6 separate regions of the Homo sapiens genome follow, and all the other regions are linked to region 3. The links come from fine-mapping of genetic effects on gene expression. A gene starts in region 3. Each other region holds a variant in brackets. All regions are shown on one strand. Distances are between the middles of the regions.

Region 1 (5,082 bases), 55 kb after region 3:
CTGCGCGATCGGGTGGTCGGGGAGGCTGCGGGAGAAGAGGACGTGAGAACGCGGCCAGCCTCGGCCTCTCCGTGGCATCCACAGGTGCCGCGCTATGCCCGGTTTCAGAGAAGCGACTTGCATTACCTCCTGACAGTGAATGTTGGAAAGTCTGCCCCCCGCCCCCGCTGGGGAGGTTGGAGAAGCCGAGGAAACGCCCTCAGCGCAAAGGGAGCTGCAGTGTCCACGTGGCCGGGCACAGGCTCCCTGTGTCAGTCCAGCCCCTCTCCGGCACCTGGCACCAGGCAGAGGTGCCCAAGGCCGGTGCGCAGGGGCTCTGTGGGGCCTGAAGGCCCAGCTACCTGAGCAGGTGTGAGACCAGGCTGGTCACGAGTGACAGGTCCCCCGGATTCCTCTTGAGCTTGGCCTTCCAGTGCTTCGGCCAGTCCTACGGGACAGGGGGCCTTGAAGGAAAGCACGGTGGGTCCGCCACGACCGGACGCGCCTCATCTCCCACCAGTGCCGACCCCTAGAGACTGTGGGAGCCCGTCCTGGGGTGCAGGAGACCCAGCGCCAGCAGGCCCCGCGACCCGCCCCCGCCCCCACCCACACCCGAGGGAAACCTTAGGCGAACCCTGGGCCTGCACCCTCGCTGGGACCCTCCCTCCTCGCAGGGACCCTCCCTCCTCGCTGGGACCCTCCCACGCGACCCCTGACCTCGCCTCCTCGCTCTGCCCCGCCCCACGCAGCCCTGGCCCCGCCCCCTCACCGGGCCCTCCCACGGGCCTCTGGCCCCGCCCCCTCACTGCCCCCCACAGCCTCTGGCTCCGCCCCCCACGGGGGCCCACCCAGGCGGCTCTGACCCCGCCCCCCTCGCTGGGCTCCTCCTACAAAGCCTGGGCCCGTGGGGGACGCACATGGTCCTGTTCGTACTCCAGGATGGCGGCGTAAAGGGCCCGCTGCTCCCGTTCCTCCGGGGTCAGGGCGACTTGGCTGCAAAACCTCCTGGGGAGAAAGGCACGCGGTGGGTGCCGGGGCCAGGCCCTCCCCGCAGCGGCCCCAGGGGCGGGCAGGAGTCCCACCTGTTGGCGGCCTCCTGGAGCCGCAGCCGGCGCTCCTCCATCTTTCTCTGGAGCTGGGTGCAGAGTCAAGGGGCCGAGCGTGGGATCTGAGCGGGCCCTCGGTTCCCAACCCCGTCCCACACCCGGAGAGGCCGGGACGTCCCAGGGACCTCCTCTCGGTGAGGGGCTGTCCCCAGGTAAGGCTTCTGGGGCAGAAGGCAGCCTGCGCTCAAGCCAGGAGGGCCGGGCCAGAGAACATGGGGGACGGCGGCCGGGCCTTCCCCTGAGACCCTGCCTCTGCAAAGCGGGGAGCCCCTCGGCCCTGTACCCCGACCCCGGAACCTCCGCTCCCCTCGCTGCCCCCTTCTCTGCCCTTGGCTCAAGGCCACACTGAGTTTCCCCTCGGGGACCACCAGGGCGGTCAGAAAGGCTGCTGTCTCCTCCCGGGCTTTGGCAATCACTAGGTTCTCCATCATCTGCCGCTGTAGAGAGAGGGTCTGGGGGGGGAGGAGGGAGTAAGGCCGACTCCCCTCTGCCCCGCGCCCACGCACCCCCAGGCCCTCCCTAGCCCCCACTCACCAGGGATGTCTTCTGCATGGCCTGGCTGGGGTCTAGCCGCGCCATTCGGGCCTCATACGCAGCCTTCAGCTTCTGATTCTGCAGGGAGGCCTCCTCCAGTGGCGTCAGCTCTCTGGAAATGTGACAAGCTGCTGTCTAGACCCCAGGAAGCCCAGTGGTGTCTGGACACCAGAGGAGTCTCTCTCATCCTCCCGGATTGCTCTGAGGCCAGGAGGTGAGGAGAAAGAGGAGGGGAGCCATCTGGGGTGGGCTGCAACATCTGCCCCTTCTTGCCTGCCCTTCCAAAACACAGGTTTTGGCCAGGTGCAGTGGCTCCCGCCTCTAATGCCAGCACTTTAGGAGGCTAAGGCCGGGCGGATCACCTGAGGTCAGGAGTTCGAGACCAGCCTGGCCAACATGGTGAAACTCTGTCTCTACTAAAAATACAAAAATTAGCTGGGCATGGTGCACACTTGTAATCCCAGCTACTCGGGAGGCTGAGGCAGAATAGCTTGATCCCGGGAGGTGATGCAGTGAGCCGAGATCTGGCCACTGCACTCCAGCTGGGGTGATAGAGTGAGACTCTGTCTCAAAAAAACAAAACCAAAACAAAAAATAACAAAAAGAAAGAAAACACAGGTTTTGGTATTGCCAGGACTTTTGGTTTTTCTTTTTTTCTTTTTTTTTTTGAGACGGAGTCTCGCTCTGTCGCCCAGGCTGGAGCGCAGTGGCGCAATCTCGGCTCACTGCAAACTCCGCCTCCCGGGTTCATGCCATTCTCCTGCCTCAGCCTCCTGAGTAGCTGGGACTACAGGTGCCCGCCACTATGCCCGGCTAATTTTTTGTATTTTTAGTAGAGACGGGGTTTCACCG[C/T]ATTAACCAGGATGGTCTTGATCTCCTGACCTCGTGATCCACCCGCCTCGGCCTCCCAAAGTACTGGGATTACAGGCGTGAGCTACCGCGCCCGGCCGGACTTTTGGTTTTTCAAGAGAAGCTGGACCACTGGACTTCTATGGAGATCCGTTATATGTGTTTGGCAACAGTATGAATCTTGTTAAAGCAAGCTTGTGCAACAATCCGAGGCTGTATGACTTCGAATGTGGCCCAACACAAATTCCTAAACTTTCTTAAAACATCACTGAGGGCTGGGCACGGTGGCTCACGCCTGTAATCCCAGCACTTTGGGAGGATGAGGCAGGCGGATAATGAGGTCAGGAGATTGAGACCATCCTGGCTAACATGGTGAAACCCCGTCTCTATTAAAAATACAAAAAATTAGCCGGGTGTGGTGGCATGTGCCTGTGCTCCAGCCTGGGTGATAGAGACTCTGTCTCAAAAAATCACTGAGGTTTTTTTGCAAAATTTTTTTTTTTGAGTCAGTCTCATTCTGTCGCCCAGGCTGGAGTGCAGTGACACAATCTCAACTCACTGCAACCTCCGCCTCCTGGGTTCAAGTGATTCTCCTGCCTCAGCCTCCCGAGTAGCTGGGATTACAGGCATGTGACACCACGCCCAGCTAATTTTTGTATTTTTTAGTAGAGATGGGGTTTCATCATGTTGGCCAGGCTGATCTCGAACTCCTGACCTCAGGTAATCTGCCCGCCTTGGCCTTCCAAAGTGCTGGGATTACAGGCGGGAGCCACTGCGCCCAGCCTTGCAATTTTTTTTTTTAAGCTCATCGGCTGTTGTTAGTGTTAGCGTATTTTATGTGTGGCCCAAGACAATTCTTCCAGTGTGGCCCAGGGAAGGCAAAAGATTGGACACCCCTGCTTTAAAGGCACTATGTGGGTCAAACAGCCAGATTAGTCTGTGACCCATGAAAGGAAGAAGTGTCCTGTCTCCTTTATACAGTTCCCAACAGCCACTCCACCTTGAAAGCTTTGTTCCCTCGTACCTTCCCACTGTCAGGGACAATGGAGGACAAGGAGGAAAGTCAGAGCCTGACGCCTGGCCACCCTGCCCTGAAGCCACATTGCAGAAACAAGGGGACTGGGAAGCCAGGCCCCGCCAGAGCAGGGGCAGGAGGAGTGGACCCTTCTCGTCTCTCCCACTTGGGAGTCACTGGGCTTTTTGCATTTGTGTCTTTGTATCTTTCATCAGTTCTAGACAACTGTCTGCCATTCTAACTTCTAATAATGCCTCTCTCCCATTTTCTTTCTTCTTTTTTTTTGAGCCGGAGTCTCGCTCTGTTGCTAGGCTGGAGTGCAGTGGCACGATCTTGGCTCACTGCAACCTCCACCTCCTGGGTTCAAGCGATTCTCCTGCCTCAGCCTCCCAAGTAGCTGGGGTTACAGGCACGCGCCACCATGCCCAGCTAAGTTTTGTATTTTTAGTAGAGATGGGGTTTCACCATGTTAGCCAGGCTGGTCTTGAACTCCTGACCTTGTGATCTGCCTGCCTTGGCCTCCCTCCCATTTTCTTTCTGGAACTCCAACGAACACGTTAGGCTTTCCATCTCTTGTTTTCTGTCTTTATTTTTTGTTTCTGTAATTCATTCTAGCTATCTTTTGACCTTTTTTCCAATACATGAATTTGCTCTTCAGCTATATCTGCTCTGCTGTTATAAACTTGTCTGCTCAGTTTTGTATGTATGGATTTCTACATATATATAGATATATAACTCATCCTTGTTCCCAGCTAAATTTTTTTTTTTTTTTTTTTGAGATGGAGTCTTGCTCTGTCGCCCAGGCTGGAATGCAGTGGCGCAATCTCAACTCACTGCAACCTCTGCCTCCTGGGTTCAAGGGATTCTCCTGCCTCAGCCTCCTGAGTAGCTGGGACTATAGGTGCCCGCCACCACGCCCAGCTAATTTTTTGTATTTTTAGTAGAGATGGGGTTTCACCTTGTTGGCCAGGATGGTCTCGATCTCCTGACCTCATGATCCACCCACCTCGGCCTCCCAAAGTGCTGGGATTACAGGCGTGAGCCACCGCGCCCGGTCATTTTTTTTTTTTTTAGACAGAGTCTCATTTTGTTGCCCAAGCTGGAGTGCACTGGCACAATCACGGCTCACTGCACCCTCAACCTGTCAGGCTCAAGTGAGCCTCCCACCTCAGCCTCCCTAGTAGTTGGGACTACAGGGGCACACCACTATGCCTAATTTTTTTTGAGACGGAGTTTCACTCTTGTTGCCCAGGCTGGAGTGCAGTGGCACAATCTTCGCTCACTGCAACCTCCACCTTCCAGGATCAAGCGATTCTCCTGGACTCAGCCTCCTGAGTAGCTGGGATTACAGGTGCACACCACCACGGCCAGCTAATTTTTGTATTTTTAGTAAAGACGGGGTTTTACCATGTTGGCCAGGCTGGTCAGGAACTCCTGACCTCAGGTGATCTGCTCGCCTCGGCCTCCTACAGTGCTGGGATTACAGGCGTGAGCCACCAGGCCGCCTGCATTTGCTTGTGTCCGGCCAGGGGATATTCCCATTCTGGGACTCATTTTAAAAACATTCGCTGTCAGGCCAGGCGCAGTGGCTCATGCCTG
Region 2 (5,082 bases), 300 kb after region 3:
AGAGAGCCTGGGATTGGGGTTCATGAACCTGGGGCTGCTTCTGTCCCCTGAGCTCCATGTCTTCATGAAGCAAATGTGCAGAGAATAGATTCCCTCTGGGGTCCTTGAGGTCCTGTACACTTGCCGAGAGTCAGGGTGTGGGAGGCAAGGGGAAGCCCCTTGTCTGCCTCGTACTGACCAGTCGGTATTACAGGGCCACTCTTGTTTGTTCCGTGTTTTGTTCCATGGAAGCCTTGTGTTGAAGAAGAAAAGGGGGAGGATATAATGATTTTTTTAAAAAAGTTTGAGGCCGGGCGCGGTGGCTCACGCCTGTAATCCCAGCACTTTGGGAGGCTGAGGCGGGCGGATCACGAGGTCAGGAGATGGAGACCATCCTGGCTAACACGGTGAAACCCCGTCTCTACTAAAAAATGCAAAAAATCAGCCGGGCGTGGTGGCACATGCCTGTAGTCCCAGCTACTCGGGAGGCTGAGGTAGGAGAATGATGTGAACCTAGGAGGCAGAGTTTGCAGTGAGCCGAGACTGCGCCACTGCACTCCAGCCTGGGTGACAGAGTGAGACTCCGTCTCAAAGAAAAAAAAAGTTTGAAAACCTTTTATTTTTATGCAAACCATCTCCAACTTTTGAGGGAAACATTACGGCAACATTCAAATGTAACTTTGAAAGGATTTGGGCCAGACGTGGTGGCTCACGCCTGTAATCCAGCACTTTGGGAGGCCGAGGCGGGCGGATCGTGAGGTCAGGAGTTCGAGACCAGCCTGACCAACATGCTGAAACCCCGTCTCTACTAAAAATACAAAAAAAAATTTAGCCGGGCATAGTGGAGCGCCCCTGTAGTCCCAGCTACTCAGGAGGCTGAGGCAGGAGAATCGCTTGAACCCGGGAGGTGGAGGTTGCAGTGAGCCGAGATCGTGCCGCTGCACTCCAGCCTGGGCGACAGAGACTCCGTCTGAAAAAAAAAAAAAGAGGGAGAGACTTCATATATTTGTTTCGTATCTTATTTTTTTTCCTTTTTCTTGAGATAAGGTCTCGCTCTGTTGCCCCCGCTGTGAAGTGCAGTGGCGCAATCATGGCTCACTGCAGCCTCGACCTCCTGAGCCCAAGCGATCCTCCCACCTCAGCTTCCTGATTAGCTGAGACTACAGGTGTGCACTACAATGCTCAGATAATTTTTCATTTTTTTTTTATAGACACGGGGTCTCGCTCTGTTGCCCAGGCTAGTCTAAAGCTCCTGAGCTCAAGTGATCCACCCACCTCGGCCTCCCAAAGTGCTAGCATTATAGGTGTGACCCACTGCACTCAGCTTGTTTTGTATATTACAACATTTTGAGCACTTCCTTTGGGCCACAGGCTGAGCTGCAAGGGGGAGGGGAGGGTGCCACCTCCCCTTTGCCTGGGTCTCAGAGCCCAGCAGCCTGGAGGAGGAGGATGGCTCCTGAGGGCGGGGTCCAGGCTCCCCAGCACTGAGACCTGATCCTGTCTTCCCCGGGATCCCCAGAGTGTTCTGAGTCTGGGGCCTTGCTGGGCCGTGAGCCCCCTGGTCGCTATGTGGCGAAAGCAACCAGAAGTGCTGGGGCTGGCTCTCGGCATGTGCTTGGGCTTGGCAGTCAAGCTCGAGGCCACTTACTGTCCTTCATGACAGCAAATGTCCTTTCCCTAGCTTTCCTCCAAGAGGAAGCTCTTCAGAAGGAAGTGAAGTGACATAACAAAAAAGCATCTGGATTTCTCAAAGAAGGAAGTTGTCTTTTGAAAAGCAACTTTCAAACATTAGGTTTTCAGAGGTCTGTGGGCAGGCAGGTCAGGCTAGGAGCACGCAGCACCGGGTGGACCTTGACCGTGCTGCCACCTTTCCTGCCCTGGAGCAAGTCCTCGGTGCCCTCTGGGTTGAGTTTCCTTCTCTGGGTGAGGGGTGTCGGGGTCTGCTCTGGGCCTGTCTCGGCGGATGGGCCTTAACAGGGAGCTCCTGCAGGATGGGCCTTTGACTGCCCC[C/T]GCCCCCAACCTGGGCAGGGTCTGTTCCTGGCCTCTGACGTCCAGCAGCTGCGGCAGGCGATCGAGGAGTGCAAGCAGGTGATTCTGGAGCTGCCCGAGCAGTCGGAGAAGCAGAAGGATGCCGTGGTGCGACTCATCCACCTCCGGCTGAAGCTCCAGGAGCTGAAGGTGGGTGTGGGGCCGCCCCGCCGTGGGGCAGCCTGGGGCCGAGGCCAGAACTGTGGAACTAGGAGGACCCTGCCAGCCTCTGGCTCTCTCTCAGGCGGTGGTCTCTCTCTCGGCCTCAGGGGCTGAGGTAGAAGGGCACGAGACAGGCAGGGTGGAAGACGGGCCCTCACCCCACTGCGGGAGGTTTCCCTATTAGCCTAGACCCTCCTGTTGCAAGGAACAGAAACTCAACCCTGAGTAGCTTAAGCCAAAAAGAAAAATGTATTTGCTTGGTGACTGGAAGATCCTCCAGTGTCAGGAATCTTGCTCTCTTCCAACTCGACTTCCTGTGTCTGATCCAGCCTCAGGCAGGCCTTCCCTGTGCGGTGGCAGAGACGGTCCCGGCAACCACATCTTGCTTTCCAGGAGCTGAGCCTCCCTGTGCAGATGACAGCTGCCTTTTCACAGTGGTTATAGCAGGAACCTCAGGCCTGACTTTCATTGGCCAGTCCTGACCGGATGACAGTGGCTGACTGGCCAGTTCTGGGTCATGTGCCCACCCCTGACCCAATGACAGTGGCCGATTGGCTAGTTCTGGGCTGTGTGCCCGCCCACTGACCCAATGACGGTGGCCGATTGGCTAGTTCTGGGCTGTGTGCCCACCCACTGAAGCAAGCGGGTGGGCTAAGTAAGTTCCTCCCTGAGTGAGCCACATGGACAAGGACGGGTGGTGTCTTGAAGGTGACAACAAAAGAAGGTGGTGGGTCCCAGGCCACAGATGTTCCTGATGCAGTCCTTGGGTCTGTGTGTGCTTTGGCCTGGCTGCCCTGTGTCCCCTGTGCTGATTCAGGTATCCCTGGGAATGTAGAAAGTAGAATATTCATGAGGAAACAGGTAAATTGGTGGTAAGAAAAAAAAACCCCAAAACATAGTGGCTTAGAGAAGATGTGTTCGTTTCCTCACGTAAAAATCCCATAGGTGGTCTGGGGCCTCTATGACAGCTAATGGTGTTGGGGAGGGCCTCCTTTTCCATTGCCCTGCACCTAACCGGCAAAAAGCAGGAGGGGCAGAGAGGCCGGGTCGCTCCCGCTCACATGCCCATGGCCCGGTGCAATCCCACACAGCCCCTCGCTGCAAGGGATGCTGGGAAAGGTCGCAAGGGATGCTGGGAAAGGTAGCATGTGACCTTGGCGGTCCTTGTCCAGCTGATCATTGTTTACTGTGAAAGGGAGAAAAGGGACATGGCATTGTGCTGAAACTCACAATCTCTGCCCTAAATGGTGCCTGGAAGAAATAAGTTGAGGGGCTTGTGCGAAGGGAAAGGAACTTCAGCCCAGCTCACCTGTGACCCCCTCCCTGACTCACCCTCTGCAGGACCCCAATGAGGATGAGCCAAACATCCGAGTGCTCCTTGAGCACCGCTTTTACAAGGAGAAGAGCAAGAGCGTCAAGCAGACCTGTGACAAGTGTAACACCATCATCTGGGGGCTCATTCAGACCTGGTACACCTGCACAGGTGGGCCGAGACCCAGACGAGGAGTGAGGAATGAGAGAGACCAAAGTTCCTGCCTCCGCTGGGCTCACATTCAGATGTGAGCTATCCAGTGTGGTGGCCACTAGCCAAACATGGCCAGTCAAAGTTAAATTAACTAAATATGCATTTCCTCGTTGTACTGTCTACATTGGACAGGGCTGTTCTGGATGAGAAATTAAACTAGTGAATTACATGGTGTGTCTAGTTTGTACAATGAAGAAAAAGGGAAAGGACCTAGCACGTGTTAGGGTGGAGTGAATGTGACTTTAGGGCAGAATGTAAAGGCATCACGTGACTTTGTTTTTTGTTTTTGTTTGTTTTTGGTTTGGTTTTGTTTTTGAGACGGAGTCTCACTCAATCGCCCAGGCTGGAGTGCAGTGGTGCAATCTCAGCTCACTGCAAGCTCCACCTCCCGGGTTCACACCGTTCTCCTGCCTCAGCCTCCTGAGTAGCTGGGACTACAGGTGCCCGCCACCACGCCCGGCTAATTTTTTGTATTTTTTTTAGTAGAGACGGGGTTTCACCGTGTTAGCCAGGATGGTCTCTATCTCCTGATCTTGTGTTCCGTCCACCTCGGCCTCCCAAAGTGCTGGGATTACAGGCGTGAGCCACCACGCCCAGCCGGCGTCACGTGACTTTTAAGCAAAAACTTGAAGGTCAGGGAGCAAGCCAAGACAATATGTCTGGAGGAATGTTCTGGTGGGGGCAGCCCTGTGGTTGATGTGTCCAGTGCCTTAAGGAGGAGCAGAGAGCCAGGTGTGGCTGCAGCTTTGTGTCTGGAGGACTGTTCCGGTGGGGACAGTGCTGTGGTTGATATAAGGAGGAGCAGAGAGCCAGGTGTGGCTGCAGCTCTGTGTCTGGAGGAATGTTCCGGTGGGGGCAGCCCTGTGGTTGATATAAGGAGGAGCAGAGAGCCAGGTGGGGCTGCAGTTCTGTTTCTGGGGGAGGTGGGCTCAGAGGTGGCTGGGGCTTTTCTTTAAGTGCAGTGGGGGCCACAAGTGGGTGCTGGACATACTTGAGCTTTAATAGGTTACTGTGGCTGCTGACTGAGCTTGGACTGAGAGGGAGGTGACTGAGAAGAGGGGGATGACTCTGATTGGGCTGGGGTAGGTGGTGGGAGTGAGGAGTCGCTAAGGGCAGTCCAGCTGAAGGTTTGGAAACGGAATGTAACAGATTAGAAAATAGTCTGACTGAGTGCGGTGGCTCACGCCTGTAATCCTAGGGTTTTCCAGTGCAAAGATGGGAGGATCGCTTGGGCCCTGGAGTCTGAGGCTGCAGTGAGCTCTGATTGCACGACTACACTCCAGCCTGGGCAAAAGAGCAAGACCCTGTCTCTTAAAAAGTACAAAAACAACAACAACAAAAACAGAGAGAGAGAAACCCTTCAGGATAACTCATGATATTGAAAGGGT
Region 3 (5,073 bases):
CACCATCTTGGCTCACTGCAACCTCTGCCTCCCAGGTTTAAGCGATTCTCCTGTCTCAGCCTCCCAAGTAGTTAGAATTACACGTGCACGCCACCAGGCCCAGCTAATTTTTGTATTTTTAGAAGAGACGGGGTTTCACCATGTTGGCCAGGCTGGTCTCAAACTCCTGACCTCAGGTGATCAACCAACCTCGGCCTCCCAAAGTGTTGGGGTTACAGGCGTGAGCCACCACATCCGGCCTCCCAAAGTGCTGGAATTACAGCCGTGAGCCACCGCGCCCGGCCTCCCAGAGTGCTGGGGTTACAGGCCTGAGCCACCACACCCGGCCTGGCCAGCATATTTTTTGTGGCGGGAGGTAGATGTTATCTTTCATCTTCTCTCAGGGCAGAAAATCTCTACACATTTCCTTCATGATGATGACACGGTGGTACTATAGCTTTTCACACTTCTAACTAAAAGAATTTTTTTTGAGACGGAGTCTCGCTCTGTCGCCCAGGCTGGAGTGAAGTGGCGCGATCTCGGCTCACTGCAAGCTCCGCCTCCCGGGTTCACGCCATTCTCCTGCCTCAGCCTCCCGAGTAGCTGGGACTACAGGCACCCGCCACCACGCCTGGCTAATATTTTTGTATTTCTAGTAGAGATGGGGTTTCACTGTGTTAGCCAGGATGGTCTCGATCTCCTGACCTTGCGATCCGCCGGCCTCGGCCTCCCAAAGTGCTGGGATTACAGGCGTGAGCCACCGCGCCCAGCCCTTCAAAAAGTATTTTTAAAAGCCTGCCCATCACACCAGCCCAACGATGTTTCAGCAAACATAGGACTTCATTTTGCCAGATTCTTCCTGTTCTTTGGTATCCCTGAGCACACAGCCGGCTAGCCCCAGATGTAGAAGGTAAGAATTAGGGCGACCCATTGAGCACAGAAACGCTTGTGCTGGCTCCTGCTCAAACCTCTGCTTCCCCACATGGAGAATGGACGCAAAGAGCTGCTGTGACCAGGGCCTGGCACTCAGGGAGCGCTTTCTGTCTGAGTCCTTCTGATTTGCAGTGATGCTGTTTGGGGCAGGGGGTGCAACTGTCACTTTTTCTGGTGCCCTCTGACCCGACATTCCAAGTCCCGAAAGGCCGAACAGGCATCGCACAGTCCCCCCTACCGAGCTGGCGGGAAAGGGCGCCTGACGCTGAGGAGTGCCAGGGGCGGGGGAAAGGGTCCTGGGTCGGTGGTCGGGGGTCCAGGCCCTGGGCAAGGGGTCCTGGGTCGGGAGTCTAGGTCCCGGGTCCATGGTTGGGGGTCAGAGGTCGAGGCCCCGGGGAAGGCATACCGGGTTGAGATTTGGGGATGGAGGCCCCGGGGAAGGGGTCCCGAATCGGGGGTCGGGGATCGAGGCCTGGGGGGAGGGGTCCCGGGTCGAGGGTCGAGGCCCGGGGTAAAGGATCTCGGGTTGGGGGTCGGGGGCCTGGGAAGGGTCCCGGTCGGTGGTCGGGGGTCGAGGCCCGGGAGAAGGGGTCCCGGGTCGGTGGTAGAGGCCCTGGGGAAGGGGTTCCGGGTCGGGGATCGAGGGTCGAGGCCCGGGAAAAGGGGTCCCGGGTTGGTGGTCTAGGCCCTGGGGAAGGGGTTCCGGGTCGGGTATCGGGGGACGAGGCTCGGGAAAAGGGGTCCCAGGTCGGTGGTCGAGGCCCTGGGGATGGGGTCCGGGTCGGGGATCGGGGGACGACGACCGGGAAAAGGGGTCCCAGGTCGGTGGTCGAGGCCCTGGGGATGGGGTCCCGGGGGATCGACGGTCGAGGCCCGAGCTCTCCTGAGTCCTGCCCGCGGCCCCAGGTGGGCGGAGCCCACGCCAGTGGGAGAAGCGGCCCCGCCCCGCGCGCGAGTCCCCGGAGGACGGCCGCGACCTCTTACCGTCCATGGCCACAATGACAGGAGCAGCACTCGGAGAGGGAGAAGGGACGCCAACTCCGGGCGGTGTCAGGTCCCGGCGGCGATCGAACCGACCAAGCTGCACCCGGCGGGGACTTCCGGGGTCGCCGCCCCACTTCCGGTCGCACGGGATGCTCTCGCGAGAGGATGGTGGCCGGTCCCGCCAGAGGGGCGGGGCGCGGCTGCGCGGCGCGCGGTCGCCATGGTGACGCACGCCGCTGGCGCGAGGACCTTTTGTGAGTCGCTCCCGGCTCCGCGGCCGCGGAGGTGTGGGGACCCGGGCTTGCGTCGGAGGGGGCGGTGGGCTCACCCATGGGCCTTTCCAAAAGCAAAGAGAAACCCAGGAAAGGTAAAGGAGGCGCAGGCGCTGGGCTCCCCGCGTCTCCGCCCCTGGGCGCGGGCCCAGGGCGGGGCTGGGCTGGGCGGGGCGGTGTGAGCGCAGGCGCCAGGCTCGGCCCGGTGCGAACCGTTCCTGCCGCCGAGTCCGCCACGGACGGCGCGTTTCCCGCCTGAGGCGGTTACGGAAACGCGGAGACTCGAGACTTGAAGCCAGCTTATTCTGGACCCACGCAGGCGACTGAAGACGATGGGACCCACTGCCCTGCATTCGGTAAGTCCCGGGTCTAACGGATGATCCATATATTTCAGGTGAGGAGCAAAAGAAGGGATCCACCTATTCAGTTCCAAAATCTAAGGAGAAGTTGATGGAGAAGCATTCCCAGGAAGCCAGGCAGGCAGACAGGGAGTCGGAGAAGCCTGTGGACAGCCTCCACCCGGGGGCCGGGACAGCCAAGCACCCGCCGCCGGCAGCTTCGCTGGAAGGTAGGAGACGGCGGGAGGGAGCGAAGCGAGGTCAGTGGCTTGGAGGATCTGGGGCTGGGGTGAGGAGCCTACTGTAAGACCCTACCGGATGGACACTAGTAGCAGGCACGCGCCGTAAAGATGAAACTGGTTTGTTTTGGGAACTTTATGTAGGAGGTAAATATCCAGAAATCTTAGTTGAAAACATAAGTTTAATGAAAATGTAGGTCAGTTCCCGAGTGATAAGTGCGTACCAGGTGGTCGAGGGGCTGGGGCAGTGTGCGTGTGTCTCACCTGAGGTTCTCCTCGAGGGCTGGGTATCTTGGTGCCACTGAGAATCCCTGAGCCTCCGCACACTGGAACAGAGCATTGGGAGGCCGTCCCAGGCTGGACTGTAGCTCTCCGAGGGCTGTGGGGATAAGTACATTGCGGAGGGTGACCGAGGAGTAGAACCTGGGTGCGACAAAGGTGTCTTTTATAACAGCCTAGTGTGGCCAGACCTTTGGGTGTGTGTGGGGAAGATGAGGCCCCAAAAGTAGGAAGAAGCTAGAATACAAAGTTTTCCATCAGTTTTACCACGTGGAGCTGGAAGCGTTAAATATTTTAAACAACGGAGGTGCTGCCTGGGGCGGTAGTTCACACCTGTCCTCCCAGTTATTTGGCCGAGGCAGGAGGATCTTTTGAGCCCAGGAGTTCAAGACCAGCTTGGGCAACATAGTGAGACCCTGTCTCTACAAAAAATAAATATTTAAAAATAAAAAACAAGGGCGGCATGATGAGGTCTGTGCCTACCAACAGGGGAAGCCAGTTCGCAGGGGAGGTGGCCCGGTCAGAGACCCATTGCTGTGGCCCAGTGGGAGCCAGCAAGGCCTTGCAGTAGGAATTGCAGAAGGGTCAGGCAGGGAGAACCCGCAGAGCCTGCCGTCCGAGGAGATTGGGGGCCTGTGCCAGGAGGAGGTGTTTTAAGTTTCATCACAAGAATGAACCACTCGGCTGGGCGCAGTGGCTCACGCCTGTAATCCCAGCACTTTGGGAGGCCGAGGCGTGTGGATCACTTAAGGTCAGGAGTTCAAGACCAGCCTGGCCAACGTGGTGAAACCCTGTCTCTACTAAAAATACAAAAATTAGCTGGGCGTGGTGGCATGTGCCTGTAATCCCAGCTACTCAGGAGGCTGAGGCAGGAGAATTGCTCGAACCTTGAACCGGGACCCGGGAGGCAGAAGTAGTGGTGAGCGAGATCGCACCACTGCACTCCAGCCTGGGCTACAGAGTGAGACTCTGTCTCAGAAAAAAAAAAAAATAATAAGGAGAGAACCACTCGGGTCAGACAAGAAAGAATGTCAGGGGGATGACTGGCCTGCTAGGCAGAGGAGCTGGGCCTGGACTGCTTCACACTGACACGCTTGTAGGATCAAGGGCTGAAAGTAGGAGGCTCTGGGCCTTGGACTTGGAAGAAAGACTTGGATTTGAATTCCCAACTTTGGAACCTCCCACTGGAGGGTGGAACCCCTCACAGGAGGGCGCAACCCCCCACCGGAGGATGGAACCCTGCAGGAATAGCATCACCCTTGGGTGGCAGTTTGGAAAATGCTACCTGTCTGTCACGGTGCTTTTAGCTGAAAGTTACAGAAAAGCTCACTAAACGCAGCTTTAACACAGGGATTTAATGTCTCACGAATGAAGGGTCAGAGGTGGAGCTTCCAGGTTGGCTTGTTAGCACAACAGTGACATCAAAGACTTTGCGTGTCTCTTCTTGACCACTCTCAGTGTCCACAGCCCCCGATGAGTGTACAGCCCCCCACACGCAGGCAGGACTGCATCTACTGCAAAGGCATTGCTCCTTGCTTCATATTAGCAAGGAAACCTTTCCCAGGAAGGCTTCGCCTGCCCAGCCTCTGCAGGACTCATTCAATGGTGCAAATTCACCAGGGGCTGGAGGGAGCTGTGAAGCATGGGAGTGGGCAGGACCTCTGCCAGTAACGGAAGTGGGGGAAGGAGGACCGCCTGTTGGAAGGGCCCCAGCAGTGTCTGTCACACCAGAGGGTGGGGGAGGAAGGTGGACATGAAGGGAAAACAGCAGAGCAAGAGTGAGAACAGAGTTTCAGCAGATAAAATGAAGTGTGCACGCTCTCCATGCAGTGACGGGCTGAGCGACAGTGAGGAGCAGGCTGCTGACTCCCTTGCCACACCGTGAAGGAGTCCCAAAGGTGGGACACTGAGTGAGACAAGCCAGAGGAAAGACCACTCATGTTGCAGTTCCCTTTCCATGGAATGTCCAGAAAAGGCACATTTACAGAGAGAAGCAGATGAGTGGTTGCTGGGCAGAAATGGGAGCCGGCCACAGCTGAGCACAAGAGG
Region 4 (5,082 bases), 41 kb before region 3:
CCATGGAGAAGCTCAGTGGGTGTCATGGGTGGAAGGGGGCATCTAGGGCCTCCAAACGTGGAAGTGTCTCTAAAATACCTCCCGCTGGGCCTCAGTCTCCTTGTCGACAAAAGGTCAGCTTTGACAAATCTCCAGTCGGAGGCCAGGAGCAGACGGGGAGGGTCCCTCAGTCCCTGCTTGCAGCTTCAGGGGGACGTAGGCTGCGGTGGACGGACACTGAGCCCCAAAGCGGCCTCTCAGAGCCGCCCCTGAGGGGTGGCCTCACAGGTCGGGCTGAGGCTCCCAGCTCCCACTGGGTACAGAGCGGGCAGGCGGGCCTGGCAGGGCAGTGGTGCTGGTCTACACGCAGCTCTGGAGTCTCTGGACCTGTGTCCTGTGCGTACATCCTGGCTCCATCTCCCATGAGCCAGGGGGCTGGACCTGTCTTCTCTACCTCAGTTTCCAAGAGTAGGAGACAGGGGTAACAGCAGCCTTGCTCTCAGGGGTGAGGGCGTGGGTTAAAGGGCAGGACACCCATGGAAGCAGTGGTGGCTCCGAGCACCTGCTCAGCCTTCCCAGGTCTTCAGAGCCCACAGGCAGAGCCCACCCTGAGGGAGGAGCAGCTGGTTCTTGGGTGAAGTGAGCCCCCAGGACCCCGCCTTGCAGGACCCCGCGAGGCCCCGGTGAACTGGAGCCGGGAACCGGCCCCACGGAGGCACGTTGGGATTTGGCCACCAGAGGGCAGGAGCTGCAGCAGCCAGGCAGGCGGTCAACACGGGGGCCCCGGGGTCCTGGCCGGCTGGTGGGGTGTGAATTGGAGAGGAGTGGGCTGTGTGGAGGGAGACCAAGCACCAAGGCCCGCCCTGGCCTCTGAGTGTCCACCCCTTTCACAGGCCCATTTCACAGATACTGAGGCCCAAAGGCGCAGGGCTCAGGCGTCCCCTACGTGTCGTGTCCCCAGGCAGGAGAATTACTTGAACCTGGGAGGCAGAGGTTTCAGTGAGCTGAGATCACACCACTGCACTCCAGCCTGGGTGACAGAGCAAGACTTCATCTCAAAAAAAAAACACAAAAAGTGAATTTAAAATGCTCCCTGAACTCCAGCTGGGGTGCGCAGCAGGAGGCTGGGTCCGTGGGGCTTCGGGGGCTGGGCTGGGGGTTCAGGTGGGTGGGGGAGTCAGTGCTGTGGGGATAGGGCTCAGAGCCCAGAAACAGACAAGCCCACACAGGTAGCCAGTGTCGACGAAACAGGAGAGGCTGGGACCTGTGCCCTGGAAGGACACAGCCAGCGGGTCCTGGGTCACCCACTCCGGGGCTGACCGGGCACAGTTTCACAGAGCAGTATGGCCCAGCCAGCTGTGAGAGGATCGGACAGACGGGCGGAAAGGAGGGGAGACAGCGGGTGTGCTCGGGGCTGTGCCGGGAGGGGTCCTTGGATGGAGGAGGGGGTCGCCAGGAGGCATCTGCATCCCCGGGGTGGTGAAGACCCAGCGTGTATGGCCGACCTCGAGGACAGGGCGATTGCTCCACCAGAATGTTCCCAGATGGCACAGATGCTTCTGGTTCTGGCACTGGGACCTGCAGCAGGATTCCCGGGTGGCTTAAAGAGGTTCCTTGAAGTTTGTGATCAGGAATTCAAAGTAGCGCAGATTGGGACGGCTGGGCCTTCTCCCCTCAGCACACTCCGCGAAGGGCAGTGCAAACGCACGCTGGCAGGAAGTGGCTGGGAAGCAGGCAGAGAGCGACCAGGAAGCGGCCAGGAAGCAGGCAGGAAGTGGGCAGGAAGCAGGCAGAAAGCGGCCAGGAAGTGGCCAGGAAGCGGACAGGAAGTGGCCAGGAAGCAGGCAGGAAGTGGGCAGGAAGCGGCCGGGAAGCAGGCAGAGAGCGGCCAGGAAGCGGGTAGGAAGCGGGCAGGTTTTACCGAGCGGCGTGACGGCTCCAGAGGGGATGATGGAGTCTGGCAGAGAATGGGGCGGGAGGCTGGAGGTCCTGGGCAGGCCCTGGAGCAGAAGGGGAAGGGAGGGGTGGGGTGATGGGACTGCAGTGAAGGTCTGGCCCCACCCGAGCAAGGTGAGGGTAGCACAGGTCATTACATGTCAGGGAATTGCTTGGCCAGGGTTGGGGACAATTCTCTCTTATTAGAATTGCCAGGAATCAAGACAGGGTGGAGCTAGAACAAGGGAGAGGGAGTGGCAGAGAGATGGGGTGCTTGGGGCTCTCATGTGATGCCCTGAGGACACTGCATGAAGACTCACGGCTGAGCTGGGTGGAGGTGGGAGAGGTAGGCAGGCACCAAGGCCCAGGGCCCTGAGAGGTGAGGGGAAAAGCGCTCCTGCCTCACGAGGCCACAGGAGCTCCCTCAGCACGGTGCCTGCATGGAAGAATTGCTCAGCTAACATGAGCTCTGAGGCTTGCGCACATGTTACAGAGAATGAGGTGGAAGCATCCACGCCAGGAGGTCTCCAGGCCATCTGGTCAACAGAAAGCCAACAACATGCAAAGGACAGGAGCCCACACCTGTGCCGGTCTGTGCCAGAAATGCTGGAAGGCGGCCGGGCGCGGCGGCTCACACCTGTAATCCCAGCACTTTGGGAGGCCGGGCGCGGCGGCTCACACCTGTAATCCCAGCACTTTGGGAGGCCGGGCGCGGCGGCTCACACCTGTAATCCCAGCACTTTGGGAGGTTGGGCACGGTGGCTCACACCTGTAATCCCAGCACTTTGGGAGGCCGGGCGCAGTGGCTCACACCTGTAATCCCAGCGCTGTGGGAGGCCAAGACGGGCAGATCATTTGAGGTCAGGAGTTTGAGACTAGCCTGGCCAACATGGTGAAACCCCATCTCTACTAAAAATACAAAAATTAGCTGTGTGTGGTGGCATGCACCTGTAATCCCAGCTACTCGGGAGGCTGAGGCACAAGAATCACTTGAACCTGGGAGACGGAGGTTGCAGTGAGCTGAGATTGTGCCCCTGCACTCCATCCTGGGCGACAGAGCGAGACTCAGTCTCAAAAAATATAAAAAA[AT/A]AAAAATAAAAAATCATCATTCTAAGTCAAGAAAAATTAAAATTTTAAATTATTAGCATGTATTTACCATTTATCTTCATATTGTGTAATACTTGGCTTAAATGCAAATAGAATAGGATTTAACTCATACAGAATCAACAAAATTGTACAATTCACATTTTTATTTTAATTAATTTATTAGTTTGTTTATCCATCTTGACAAGGTCTTGCTCTGTCACCCGGGCTGGAGTGCAGTGGTAGGATCACGGCTCACTGTAGCTTAAACCTCCTGGACTCAAGCCATCTTCCTGCCTCGGTCTGCTATGTAGCCAAGACCACAAGTGTGTGCCACCACGCTTGGCTAATTTTTATATTTTTTGTAGAGATGGGGGTCTCCCTATGTTTCCCAGGCTGGTCTCAAACTCCTGGCCTCAAGCGATCCTCCCGCCTTGGCCACCCAAAGTGCTGGGATCACAGGCATAAACCACCAGGTCTGGCCTACATTATTTATTTATGCATTTAGTTTTGAGACAGGGTCTCACTATGTTGCCCAGGTGGGAGTGCAGCCTCAAGCTCCGAGGCTCAACAACCTTCCCACCTCAGCTTCCCAAGTAACTGTGACTGCAGGCACACACCAGCCTGGCTAGTTTCTTTATGTCTGTAGAGACGAGGTCTCCTTGTGTTGCCCCGGCTGGTCTCAGACTCCTGAGCTTAAGTGATTGCTGCACTGTTCCCCGGGCAAAGTTGCACAATTCGCATTTTGTAACTTATAGATTAATATTTATTTTATTTTCACCAGAACGGTAGGAACCCTGCACAAAACTGGTTTTATTTTGCTCTTTACGTACGCACATCCCACCAGCACCCTCTACCTTTGGCTTCCGGAGGGTTGCCCTCCCTGCTCCCTCCCTGCAGCTCCCTGCCCCCCTGCTCCCCTCCCTGCAGCCCCCCTGCCCCCCCGCTCCCCTCCCTGCAGCCCCCTGCCCCCCCCGCTCCCCTCCCTGCAGCTCCCTGCCCCCCTGCTCCCCTCCCTGCAGCCCCCTGCCCCCCCTGCTCCCCTCCCTGCAGCTCCCTGCCCCCCTGCTCCCCTCCCTGCAGCTCCCTGCCCCCCCTGCTCCCCTCCCTGCAGCCCCCTGCCCCCCCGCTCCCCTCCCTGCAGCTCCCTGCCCCCCCGCTCCCCTCCCTGCAGCCCCCCTGCCCTCCCTGCTCCCTCCCTGCAGCCCCCTGCCCCCCCACTCCCCTCCCTGCAGCTCCCTGCCCCCCCGCTCCCCTCCCTGCAGCCCCCTGCCCCCCCGCTCCCCTCCCTGCAGCTCCCTGCCCCCCCGCTCCCCTCCCTGCAGCCCCCTGCCCCCCCTGCTCCCCTCCCTGCAGCCCCCTGCCCCCCCTGCTCCCCTCCCTGCAGCCCCCTGCCCCCCTGCTCCCCTCCCTGCAGCCCCCTGCCCCCCTGCTCCCCTCCCTGCAGCCCCCTGCCCCCCTGCTCCCCTCCCTGCAGCTCCCTGCCCCCCTGCTCCCCTCTCTGCAGCCCGCTTTCCCCCTGCTCCCCCCGCTCCCCTCCCTGCAGCCCCCTGGTCCCCCTGCTCCCCCCGCTCCCCTCCCTGCAGCCCCCTGCTCCCTCTGCTCCCCTCCCTGTAGCTCCCTGCAGCCCCCTGCTCCCCTCCCTGCACCCCTTTTGCCCCCTGCTCCCCTCCCTGCAGCCCCCTGCACTCCCTTCACCCCCTCCCTGCAGCCTGCTGTGCCCCCTGCTCCCCTCCCTGCAGCCCCCTGCACCCCCTCCCTGCAGCGCCCTGTGCCCCCCACTCCCCTCTCTGCAGCCCCCTGCGTCCCCTCCCCTCTCTGCAGCCCCCACTGTTCCTCCCACTGCTGCCCATCATTGGCTGCTTGAAAATGTCAGACTCCAAGGGCCCCTGTGACTAGCCCAGCAGCAGCCCTAGGTCTCCACCCTGCCTTGGGTGGGGTCCGGGATAGGCCTGGCCTCCCCCCGCCTGCTTGAACCCACTGAGTATGCCCCCCTCCCGCCGCAACCTCAGAATTCCAAAGCCAGCCTGGTCTCCAGCTCAGTGCGGTCCACACGCAGACCCTCCTTGGATTTCGAAAGCCCGT
Region 5 (5,000 bases), 91 kb after region 3:
CACCCGTGATGGAGACGTGCTGCAGAGATGCCAGAGGCAGCTGTGGAGTCTCCCACTCATCCCCAAAACAAAACACCAAACAAGACAGCTGACCCACCAGAGCAGAGGTCAAAATTAAGGGGCATTTCGTCTGGCACTTGGCCAGTATGAAGTCGACCATCAGGGAGGGGTCTCTGCTCCGCAGACAGGCGTTCAGGAGGCCCTGCAGGAGAGAACGCAGCAGGAGGTCAGCGGTTTGTGAGGACCCACAACTAGTAGAGTGAAGGAACTCACAGGAAGCTGACAGGAGGATCCACCCACGGCGTTCTGAGAAGGCCACGAGAGGGGCTGAGGGAGCATCTCACCCTGAAGAAGTGGGCAGTGATGTCCTGTGTCAGGGCACCTCCGTGGGAGCAGAAGTTTCTCTGCAAAAGAGTTCAAGGCAGGTAAGAAAAGCCCACAGGAAGAGAGGCGAGACCAACATGCAGAGTGGCTGCTGTGGATTCAGTTTTGAGAAAAACACTCGCTAAGGCTTGGCGTGGCCACCATGGATGGTGCTCCTGGGCTGACCGGGCCTGGCGCCCTGGCTGTGCTGTCCTGAAACTTAACGGCTTCCCTGGGCGGCCAGATCCTGCAGCCCACCAGCTCTGGCCCAAACAGTCTTGTAGGCTCCAGGAAGAAGCCAGGGAGGCACAAGCAGCCGCAGGGAAGGGGACGCACCCGGAGCGTAGAACTGTGGTGAGGACGACACTAATACCAAGGGCCAACCATCCTCTGGTCCCTTCACTAACCAAGTGCTGTCTATGGTGTTTTCCTGTCTGTCGGCTGTCACGTGCCAACTGAGAGCTTTCTGAAAAACAGCCATTCATAAGAATTCAAAGGAGACCATAGTGATTTTCTGAAAGCTTTTGCTAGTCTCACGTCCTCTGCTTTCCTTGTCACATTTTGAAGTGCTGCACAAGGCCGGGCTCACACCTGTAATCCCAGCACTTTGGGAGGCCAAGGCGGGTGGATCACGAGGTCAGGAGTTCAAGACCAGACTGACCAACATGGTAAAACGTCATCTCTACTAAAAATACAAAACTTAGCCGGTCATGGCGGCAGGCACCTGTAGTCCCAGCTACTCAGGAGGCTGAGGCAGGAGAATCGCTTGAACCTGGGAGGCGGAGGTTGCAGGGTGAGCCAAGATTTCACTGCTGCACTCCAGCCTGGGCGACAGAGCAAGACTCTGTCTCAAAAAATAAATAAATAAATAAATAAATAAAAATATAAAATGCTGCACAGCTGGCATGGAACCTGAATTCCATCTCTCACATTTGTGCATCTTCAAAAACAAGAAAAAGGCCTTCGGGAGCAGAAGCTGCTCTCTGTAGAGTGGGAGGGGCTGGTATCCGTCTCCCCAGCTCTGACCAACTGGGTCCCTACGCTGCCCGTCCCCACAGCGAGTGTCACTTCTTTTTATTTGAGACAAGAGTTTCGCTCTGTCACCCAGGCTGGAGTGTAGTGGTGGGATCTTGGCTCAGTGCAACTCTGCCTCCTGGGCTCAATTACTCCTCCTGACCCAGCCTCTCAAGTAGGTGGGAGTACAGGCGTGCACCACCATACCCAGCTAATTTTTCTATTTTTTGTAGAAACAGGGTTTTGTCATGTTGCCCAGGCTGGTCTCGAACTCCTGGGCTCAAGTGATCCCCCACCTTTCCAGAGTGCTGGGATTACGGGCGTGAGCCACCGCACCCAGCCTGCTGGTTAAGATCACCCTGCAACTCACGCTGGGCAGTGTCTAAAATGGAAGATAACTGGGCTGCCTGGCAGGCAACAGCGGTAGTCAGATCACCACAAGGCTTTTTTTACACATGAAGCATGTTGAGATTAGAAATAAATGAACCGAGGTGCGTGGCACACAAAATGGTCTGTACGATTCCATGTGTCAAAATCATTAAAACTTGAGGGAAACTAAAGGAACTCAAACTTGGGAGAAGGCAACCTACAGCTGGTTTGGTGATGTGCTGGTCGCCGTCCTGGCTGTGGGTGGGGTCCTCCCTCACATGGCATTCCAGACACTGTTCCCTATTTGACTTTGAACCCTTTCCTCAGTAATTCACACGGTCAGTACACGCATGGAGGCTGCAAGAGCTGCTGTTAGCGCCACAGGCACTGACAGATCGGACGGACACG[T/C]GCACACGGGGCACCTACCATCTCAGAGTTGACCAAGTGGAAGAACTGCTCGCATCTGGCAGTGATGGGCTGTTCTGCCTGGAAGCTGCTGCCGCAGAGGACAGACGAAGGCAGGCGGAGGAGGATCCTGGAAAGAAGGGGCTGTATTGGTGGCGACAGCACAGCGTACACTCTGCTCCTTCCCAAGGGCTCAGACTCTCAGAGCAGCAACCACCACCCTGAAACCCAGGGCCACTGTTGGAACCAGAGCCTTGGCCTGTGTCCCTCTGTCCCATCCAAAGCCTGCACTCTGAGCCCACCTCCCCTATACTGTGTTTGGCCCACTGCATTCAAAATGTGTTACCAAACAAACAACTTTTAACAGTTACATAATAACCAACAACTTCTGACAGTTACACGATAACCAAGTGGATGACGCACCAGTCTGTCTAGTGAAGCAATTCCCTATGACTGTAAAATTAAATGACTCCACGCTGCTTCTTATAAATGCAGCCGCCGTGGGCATTTCTGAACACTTTTCCCTACTTTCACAAGAGCTCCTTCTGCGACGTCCCTCCACGTCTGAGCAGGAAGGTTTTGTTGTTGTTGTTGAGACAGAGTCTCGCTCTGTTGCCCAGGCTGGTGTGCAATGGCGTGATCTCGGCTCACTGAAACCTCTGCCTCCCAGGTTCACACCACTCTCCTGCCTCAGTCTCCCGAGTAGCTGGGATTACAGGTGCCCGCCACCACACCTAGCTAAATTTTTTTGTATTTTTTTTGTATTTTTAGTAGACATGGCGTTTCGCCATGTTGGTCAGGCTGGTCTCAAACTCCTGACCTCAGGTGATCCACTCACCTCAGCCTCCCAAAATGCTAGGATTACAGGCATGAACCACCTCGCTTGGCTGGAAGGTTTTAATCAAAAGTACTTTCAACCCTCCAGATCCTCTTCTCCGTGGCATGTGCCACAGAAATGGACAGGCTTGGGGTGGGGACACACAGACAAGTAAGTAACGGGAAACAAACTCACTACAAAGAACCTCTAGGACCGTCATGAGATGCTGCCCTGCCCAGGTGGTGCTGCCCTGCCCAGGTGGTAGTAGGTGTTACCGTTTGTACATTAGCAGCTCCCTCTGTCTCTGAAGGCTGGCAGCCACGCTCCACCCGCTTGTCAGAGCCTGGAGCCGTCTGCGGAAAATCTCAAAGAGGAAGTGCTCCTGGGAAGGGGTGTGGCCGAGAGGCACTATGAGGTCTTGCTGCAGCTCCAGGTCAGCTACCATCTCCTGAAAAAGAGCAGTATGCTGGCACAGGAAGGCCTCGGGGCTCACTGCCCAGCCAGTCGGGGACCCAGACGTCAGGGGTCAGGGAGAGGTCTCCACAGTGGACAGGGCAAGAAGGAACAAGTGGGGCAAGCTATTTCAATTGGAAATCACTTTGAAATTGCAAATATAGAACAGTGCAGGCCGGGTGCTGTGGCTCACGTCTGTAATGCCAGCACTTTGGGAGGCCGAGGCAGGCAGATTCCTTGAGCCCAGGAGTTACAGTACTACTTATCAACTACTTATCAATTAAGAAAAAACAGCTGGGCGTGGTGGCTCATGCCTGTAATCCCAGCACTTTGGGAGGCCAAGGCAGGAGGATCACGAGGTCAGGAGATGGAGACCATCCTGGCTAACATGGTGAAACCCTGTCGCTACTAAAAAATACAAAAAAATTAGCTGGGCATGGTGGCGGGTGCCTGTAGTCCCAGCGACTCAGGCGGCTGAGGCAGGAGAATGGCGTGAACCCGGGAGGTGGAGCTTGCAGTGAGCCCAGATCGCACCACTGCACTTCAGACTGGGCAACAGAGTGAGACTCCGTCTCAAAAAAAAACAAACAAAAAAAAACAGCCAGGTATGGTGGCTCACGCCTGTAATCCCAGAACTTTGGGAGGCCAAGACAGATGGATTACCTGAGGTCAGGAGTCCAAGACCAGCCTGGCCAACAAAATTAGCCATACAAAAATTAGCTGGGTGTGGTGGCAGGCGCCTGTAATCCCAGCTAATCAGGAGGCAGAGGCAGGAGAATAGTTTGAACCCGGGAGGTAGAGGCTGCAGTGAGCCAAGATCCCGCCACTGCACTCCAGAGCAAGACTCTGTCTCAAAAACAAACAGACAAAACAAAACAAAACAACAACAAAAAAAAACAGCAGGAGGACACTCATGTGCCCTTCACCCAGATTAACCTCTGGCTAACATTTTACCCCACACATCATTTTTGCCTCACAAGTCTTTTGTTGTTGTTGTTGTTGTTAGGACAGTCTCAGTCCGGTTGCCCAGGCTGGAGTGCGGCAGTGCAGTCTTGGCTTATGGCAGCCTTGACTCTCGAGCTCAGCTGATTCTCCTAAGTCAGCTTCCTGAGTAGCTGGGACTATAGGTACACACCACCATGCTTGACTAGTGTTTTGTATTTTTAGTAGAGATGGGGTTTCACCATGTTGGCCAAACTGGTCTTGAGCCCCTGACCTCAAGTGATCTAGCCACCTCAGCCTCCCAAAGTGCTGGGATTACAGGCATAAGCCACCGTGCCTGGCCGGCTGTATTTTTTAAAGAAGAATAAAGATCAGGTGCAGTGGCTCACGCCTGTAATCCAACAATTTTGGAGACCGAGATGGGTGGTTCACTTGGGCCCAGGAGTTCGAGACAAGCCTGGGCAACATGGCAAAACTCCGTCTCTACAAAAAATCAGCTGGGTGTGGTGGCGCACACAGGTGCACGCTGTCAGGATTGCTTGAGCCCAGGAAGTCAAGGCTGCAGAGAGATATGATCGCACCACTGTACTCTAGCCTGGGTGACAGAGCAAGACCCTGTCCCAATAATAATAATAAT
Region 6 (5,070 bases), 42 kb after region 3:
GGCAGCACACTGGTGCCCAGCTGGGCCAGCACCTCACCCAGGATCTCACACTCCAGCCGGAGGGCGAAGCAGCCCAGGGCCACCTGCACCAGCTGGCAGGCGGGGGGCAGGGCGGTCACCATGAGCCGATGGCTGTCTCTGCGTACGTAGCCCATCTTCTGGAAGCTCTTCAGGAGGAGGTCGTCTGAGAGCACACCCTTCAGCACGTGCACGTAGCCCCCAGAGAAGGTCTGCAAGGGAGCGGCCAGGTCAGTGACTGCCCACCCTCCCATAGGCCAGACCCTAGGGTACAGTGGGTCCGGGATCTGTTGGCTCAGGCCTTGGCAGCTTCTGATGCTCAGACCCAACCCCAGAGACTAGGCTTAGCCAGCTTGGGCCAGGCCCAAACATGATGATTTCTTTTTTTTTTTTTTTTTTTTTTTTTTTTTGAGACAGAGTCTTGCTCTGTCATCCAGGCTGGAGTGCAGTGGCTCCATCTCAGCTCACTGCAGCCTCTGCGTCCCAGGTTCAAGCAAGTTCCCCTGCCTCAGCCTCCCGGGTAGCTGGGACTACAGGCGCCCACCACCACACCCGGCTAATTTTCATATTTTTAGTAGAGACAGGGTTTCACCATGTTGGCCATGCTGGTCTCAAACTCCTGACCTCAAGTGATCCGCCTGCCTTGAGCTCCCAAAGTGCTGGGATTACAAGCGTGAGCCACTGTGCCCGGCCTAGAATTTTTTTTTTTTTTTCTTTTTTGAGACAGAGTCTCGCTCTGTCTGGAGTACAGTGGCACGATCTCGGCTCACTACAACCTCCTCCTCCCGGGTTCAAGCGATCTTCCTGCCTCAGCCTCCTGAGTAGCTGGGATTACAGGTGCGCACCACCACGCCCCACTAATTTTTGTATATTTAGTAGAGACGGGGTTTCACCATGTTGACCAGGAAGGTCTTGATCCCTTGACCTCATGATCCACCCACCTTGGCCTCCCGAAGTGCTGGGATTACAGGTGTGAGCCACCGCACCTGGCCGAATTTCTTAAATTTAATGGAAAAAACAATGAATACATTAACCTAGCTCACAAATCAGAACAAAATGAAGAGCCCCTGTACTGAGAAATTCCACTGTCTTCTGTCCCACCGCTCCCTTCACCCCTGGAGATGGCCTCATCTAATTAGTTTTGAATGTACTTGCCCAGGTGTTTGTTTTGCAAACCCAAATACAGATTTCGTTTGCTCCTCGTATGAGGTAGTCCCCCCTTTTTTTTCACCTCTTTGTAAGGTCTCTAACCAAAGCTAGACAGGTAGCCTCTTAAACGTGTTGTTCTGAACTTTGTTTTTTTCCACTACAGTCTTGCAGACAAGGACAGAAGCTGTAACGTTCATTCCCCCTGCTGTGTAGTATTCCACCATGGGGGTGACACGTCTGTTTTCAGCGCTCTCCAGAGGCTGTCCATGCACTGGGCTGACAGCCGTGGGACGGTAGAAGGGTGAGTGCTCTTTTTTTTTTTTTTTTGAGACGGAGTCTCACTCTGTCACCAGGATGGAGTGCAGTGGCTCGATCTCTGCTCACTACAACCTCCACCTCCCAGGTTCAAGTGATTCTCCTCCCTCAGCCTCCTGAGTAGCTGGGATTACAGGCGCGTGCCACCACACCCAGCTCATTTTTGTATTTTTTAATAGAGACGGGGTTTCACCATGTTGGTTAGGCTGGTGTCAATCTCCTGACCTCGTGATCTGCCCACCTCGGCCTCCCAAAGAGCTGGGATTACAGGCGTGAGCCACCGCGCCCGGCCTGGCTGAGTGCTTTCTAGCCTACACTTAGGTGAAGAACTAAAGGAGCTCAGGACAATCACTGCGAGCGTCTCCTGACTCTCAAATTCCCTAACTCCGGGACTCCTAGCATCTAATGCCTGGACACGGCCCACGTGTGGAGCGCCCAGTGCCTGCAGCACTGAGCTCGGGGCTTTGATTCATTCCTCTGGCCCCATGAACTGGACTGTTCCCGTGTCGCTGTCTCAGGAGGAAAGGGGCTGACAGAGATTAGCTAATTTGGCCAAGTCCTCGCGGCCAGGAAGCAGCAGAACTAAGTCCAAACCAGGGCTGTCCGGCACTGAAGCCGGTTATTCCCCCGCCCCGCCCCCTGGGAGGCCTCAAGGGCGGGCCTGTCCGTCCTCTCTCATGAATGAAAGTCCTGGCGCCTCCGACCAGCAGGTGTCCCCGGGGAGCCGCGGAGAGACTGCCGCTGCCATGGCAACCGGCGGAGGCGTAGCTCGCCCACGTGCCCAGTGACGTCATCGGCTTCCTACTCTTCCGAATTAGCTCAGAGCTCCCGGCGGCCCTGCCCCCTCCTGCCGCCAGGAGCTCACCTGGAGAGGCCAGGCCAGCCCTGGGCACAGCCTCCCGCCC[C/T]AGGCCGTGGAGTTCACTAGGTCTGAGCCCAGCCCTGAGACTTCACAGGGATGCACCCATCTGCAGTCCTCCCAGCCTCGGCGGCCTCCTCTGCAAATGGGATTGGCCCATAACCTGGAGGAATTAGGATGACCATGGGAACTCAAGTCCCTTCTGTGCCCCCGTCCTAAGATTTCCATGGCAACTGGGGCCGCGAGGCCTCTTAGGGAAGACACTGACGCAAGCTCTCAGGGCAGGACCCCGTAGGCAGCACCCAAGCCTGCCCTCGCCCACCCCATGTTCTCAGCCCTAGGAGTGGGTGCCCCCACACGCCCACGACCCCTCAGCGCTCGGAGCCTTGAGGAGCCCACCAGGCACTGAGGACACTTGAAGCCCCTCTCTCTCGAAAGGCGTGGTCCCCCATGGTCGGCGGCCCCGCGACCCGCAGGCCAGGACGAGGGGCGCGCTCCTCCTGGCCTGGCGCCTACCTTGATGGTGGTGAACTCCTTCCTCCAGGGCAGCAGGTACAGGTGCACCGCGGCGAGCTCCAGAAGCTCGAAGGCGCGAGCCAGGCCGCGTAGCGCGGGCGCCAGGTCGGCGCGGCCCCACAGCCCGTCGGTGAGCAGAGCCAGCGCGTCGTCCTGCAGCGCCCCGTGCAGGTCGAAGTCCTCCACCAGGATCTGCCAGAGCACCGCGCGCAGCGAGGGGTCCCCGCACACGCCCGCGCGGCCCCGTCGCAGCTCGCGCTCCAGGCACTGGCGGTAGTCCTCGGACAGCGAGCTGCTGCCCATCCTGCGGCGGACGGGGGTCGGGGGGGTCAGGGACCTAAGGCCGCGCCCAGCCCGCCGCGCTCTCCCCGAACCCTCACCCAGCGTCCCCAGGACCCCTCGAGCCTGGAGACCCCGCCCCCAGCGGCTGGGCGCCCCCGGTATCTTCGGCACCCCCTACGCTGGAGACCTCGGCCCCATCAGCTGCCCGCCCACCCAGCGATCCAGGCCCCTCCAGTTGAGCGCCCCCGCACCTCCAGCCCCTCCCTCCAGCCTGGGTACCTCGGCCTTCCAGGGGCGCCCCCGGTTATCGACCGCACCCTTCTCTAGAGACGCGCTTCCGCCCGCTGAGCCCTCTCCCGACCAGAGCCCCTTCGCCCGGCAGATGGAGCTGCGGATCCCGCGGGTGACGGCGCTACCTGTCTGTCCCCAGCGGTCTCCGGCCGCCGCGGATCAGTTCGGGCCTCCCCGCGCGCCGCGCGCTTCCGCCGGGAGTCGGCTCCGCCCGGGGTCCGCGGCCGTGACGCTGGGGGCGGGGCGGGGCTTGGCGCAGGCCCCGCCTCCGAATAATTTAGGAGGGGCGGGGCCTGGTGAAAGGGGAGGAGGAGGTGTCAGCCCGGCCGAGCCCCTGCGCGAGGCACCCCGAGAGCCTCCTGTCACCGCGTCGCCCGTCTCCTCGCGGGACCGGTATCGTTCACGACGCCGCTGGGCCGAGGGCTGCGGGCTCATGGCAGGCGCTCAGGGAACGTTGTGCCTGGGCCGCTCCTCCCCACGAGACAGGGACCCAGCCCCAGGCGACCCGGCCGCGGGGAAGCAGGTGCGCGGGCTCGTCCCCTGGGGGGTGGGGCCACCGGCATTACCTGGCGGGGATTGGCTGGATCCTGGGAAGAGCCTTTCCTGCGGGGCGGGGCCACCTGCATTACCTGGCGGGGATTGGCCGGATCCGGGGGCGGGCCTCCCCTGTGGGGCGGGGCCATCCCCTTGAGGGAGGGGCCCGCGGCACGGAAGGTGGGCGGAAGGACAAGCCTTTCAGCCTCGTCTGAAACAGCAGCCTCAGGTGGATGCGGGGACCTCAGATTCTGTTTATGCTGGCTCCGCTTCCCGGCCTCCTGCACTTGCCATCTGCAGCCCTTGAGAGCATCGTCTGGGCGGGTCTCTGAGGCAGGGCGAAGCCGCCCCCCTCTCTAGGCTAAAAGCTGACCTGGGCTGCGGATCCACCCAGGCTAAATCTGGGCCACGACTTCCCGGGGACGTTTTCTTCGCTCGGGTTCCTCTGTTCTGTGCTACAGCCACTTTCTCGCATTGCCCAGAAGTAGAGGAGGATGAGGGAGACCCTTGGAGGTCCCAGCCGAAACCCACCCCTACCCCACACCCCCGCTTTGGGCAGGCTTTGCTACTTCACGTCTGTGTCCCTCATCTCTCCAGGCCACCAAAACCAAGGCCCAAGTTTGTTGAAACTTTCCCTGGGCCTGGGCGGCGAGGTCCCCCCTTTTTCTTAGATTTTTTACCTGGAAGTTCCCTGCTGGCATCTTAGAAATAGTGATCATGACCGGGTGCGGTGGCTCACGCCTGTAATCCCAGCACTTTGAGAGGCCGAGGCGGGCGGATCACCTGAAGTCAGGAGTTCAAGACCAGCCTGGCCAACATGGTGAAACCCCGTCTCTATTAAAAATACGAAAGTTAGCCGGGCGTGGTGGCACATGTCTGTAAGCCCAGCTACTTGGGAGGCTGAGGCAGGAGAATTACTTGAACCTGGGAGGCAGAGGTTGCGGTTGCAGTGAGCTAAGATCGTGCCACTGCACTCCAGCCTGGGTGACAGAGCGAGAATGTCTGGAAAAAAAAATCGTGATGCAGTCGGTGGATCTCCCTGAGTTATCTAGGTGGCCACCTCTGGACAGGGAGCTCTTTTACTTACTGTTTACTGAACTCACTCTTGG

What was found. PIP is the estimated chance that this variant, and not a neighbour inherited with it, causes the effect.
Region 1: its variant is fine-mapped to the expression of CHMP1A in visceral fat (GTEx, PIP above 0.99).
Region 2: its variant is fine-mapped to the expression of CHMP1A in thyroid (GTEx, PIP 0.95).
Region 4: its variant is fine-mapped to the expression of CHMP1A in whole blood (TOPMed, PIP above 0.99).
Region 5: its variant is fine-mapped to the expression of CHMP1A in sun-exposed skin (GTEx, PIP 0.98).
Region 6: its variant is fine-mapped to the expression of CHMP1A in fibroblasts (GTEx, PIP above 0.99).

Annotation. Positions count from the first base shown.
Region 1 is chr16:89,710,986-89,716,067 of GRCh38, forward strand. It overlaps VPS9D1 (VPS9 domain containing 1), which reads right to left. Exons shown (of 15, transcript NM_004913.3): 5 at 1,620-1,731; 6 at 1,475-1,537; 7 at 1,062-1,114; 8 at 897-984; 9 at 342-427; 10 at 1-25. It overlaps VPS9D1-AS1 (VPS9D1 antisense RNA 1), which reads left to right and starts at 871. Exons shown (of 4, transcript NR_036480.1): 1 at 871-1,237; 2 at 1,704-1,833. RefSeq lists enhancers at 1-265, 1,763-1,862 and a silencer at 703-1,122. The variant C/T (reference allele first, on the strand shown) is at 2,472.
Region 2 is chr16:89,955,504-89,960,585 of GRCh38, forward strand. DEF8 (differentially expressed in FDCP 8 homolog) reads left to right here. Exons shown (of 13, transcript NM_001242818.2): 5 at 2,008-2,157; 6 at 3,511-3,652. Among named protein-coding and RNA genes, the nearest start is that of SNORA119, 4.7 kb to the left of the region's middle. The variant C/T (reference allele first, on the strand shown) is at 1,990.
Region 3 is chr16:89,655,686-89,660,758 of GRCh38, forward strand. It overlaps CHMP1A (charged multivesicular body protein 1A), which reads right to left and starts at 2,023. Exons shown (of 7, transcript NM_002768.5): 1 at 1,897-2,023. The coding sequence starts at 1,903. It overlaps SPATA33 (spermatogenesis associated 33), which reads left to right and starts at 2,151. Exons shown (of 3, transcript NM_001271907.2): 1 at 2,151-2,263; 2 at 2,563-2,736. The coding sequence starts at 2,227. RefSeq lists silencers at 1,750-1,809, 2,030-2,419 and an enhancer at 2,135-2,304.
Region 4 is chr16:89,615,037-89,620,118 of GRCh38, forward strand. The region is part of intron 1 of DPEP1 (dipeptidase 1); the gene reads left to right. Among named protein-coding and RNA genes, the nearest start is that of DPEP1, 3.9 kb to the left of the region's middle. RefSeq lists enhancers at 1-474, 475-1,177. The variant AT/A (reference allele first, on the strand shown) is at 3,003.
Region 5 is chr16:89,746,487-89,751,486 of GRCh38, forward strand. FANCA (FA complementation group A) reads right to left here. Exons shown (of 43, transcript NM_000135.4): 32 at 3,244-3,416; 33 at 2,173-2,281; 34 at 345-404; 35 at 98-202. Among named protein-coding and RNA genes, the nearest start is that of ZNF276, 27 kb to the left of the region's middle. RefSeq lists an enhancer at 215-384. The variant T/C (reference allele first, on the strand shown) is at 2,155.
Region 6 is chr16:89,698,076-89,703,145 of GRCh38, forward strand. SPATA2L (spermatogenesis associated 2 like) reads right to left here and starts at 3,630. Exons shown (of 3, transcript NM_152339.4): 1 at 3,553-3,630; 2 at 2,855-3,158; 3 at 1-230. The coding sequence starts at 3,157. RefSeq lists an enhancer at 1,368-2,233 and silencers at 3,236-3,335, 3,506-4,225. The variant C/T (reference allele first, on the strand shown) is at 2,388.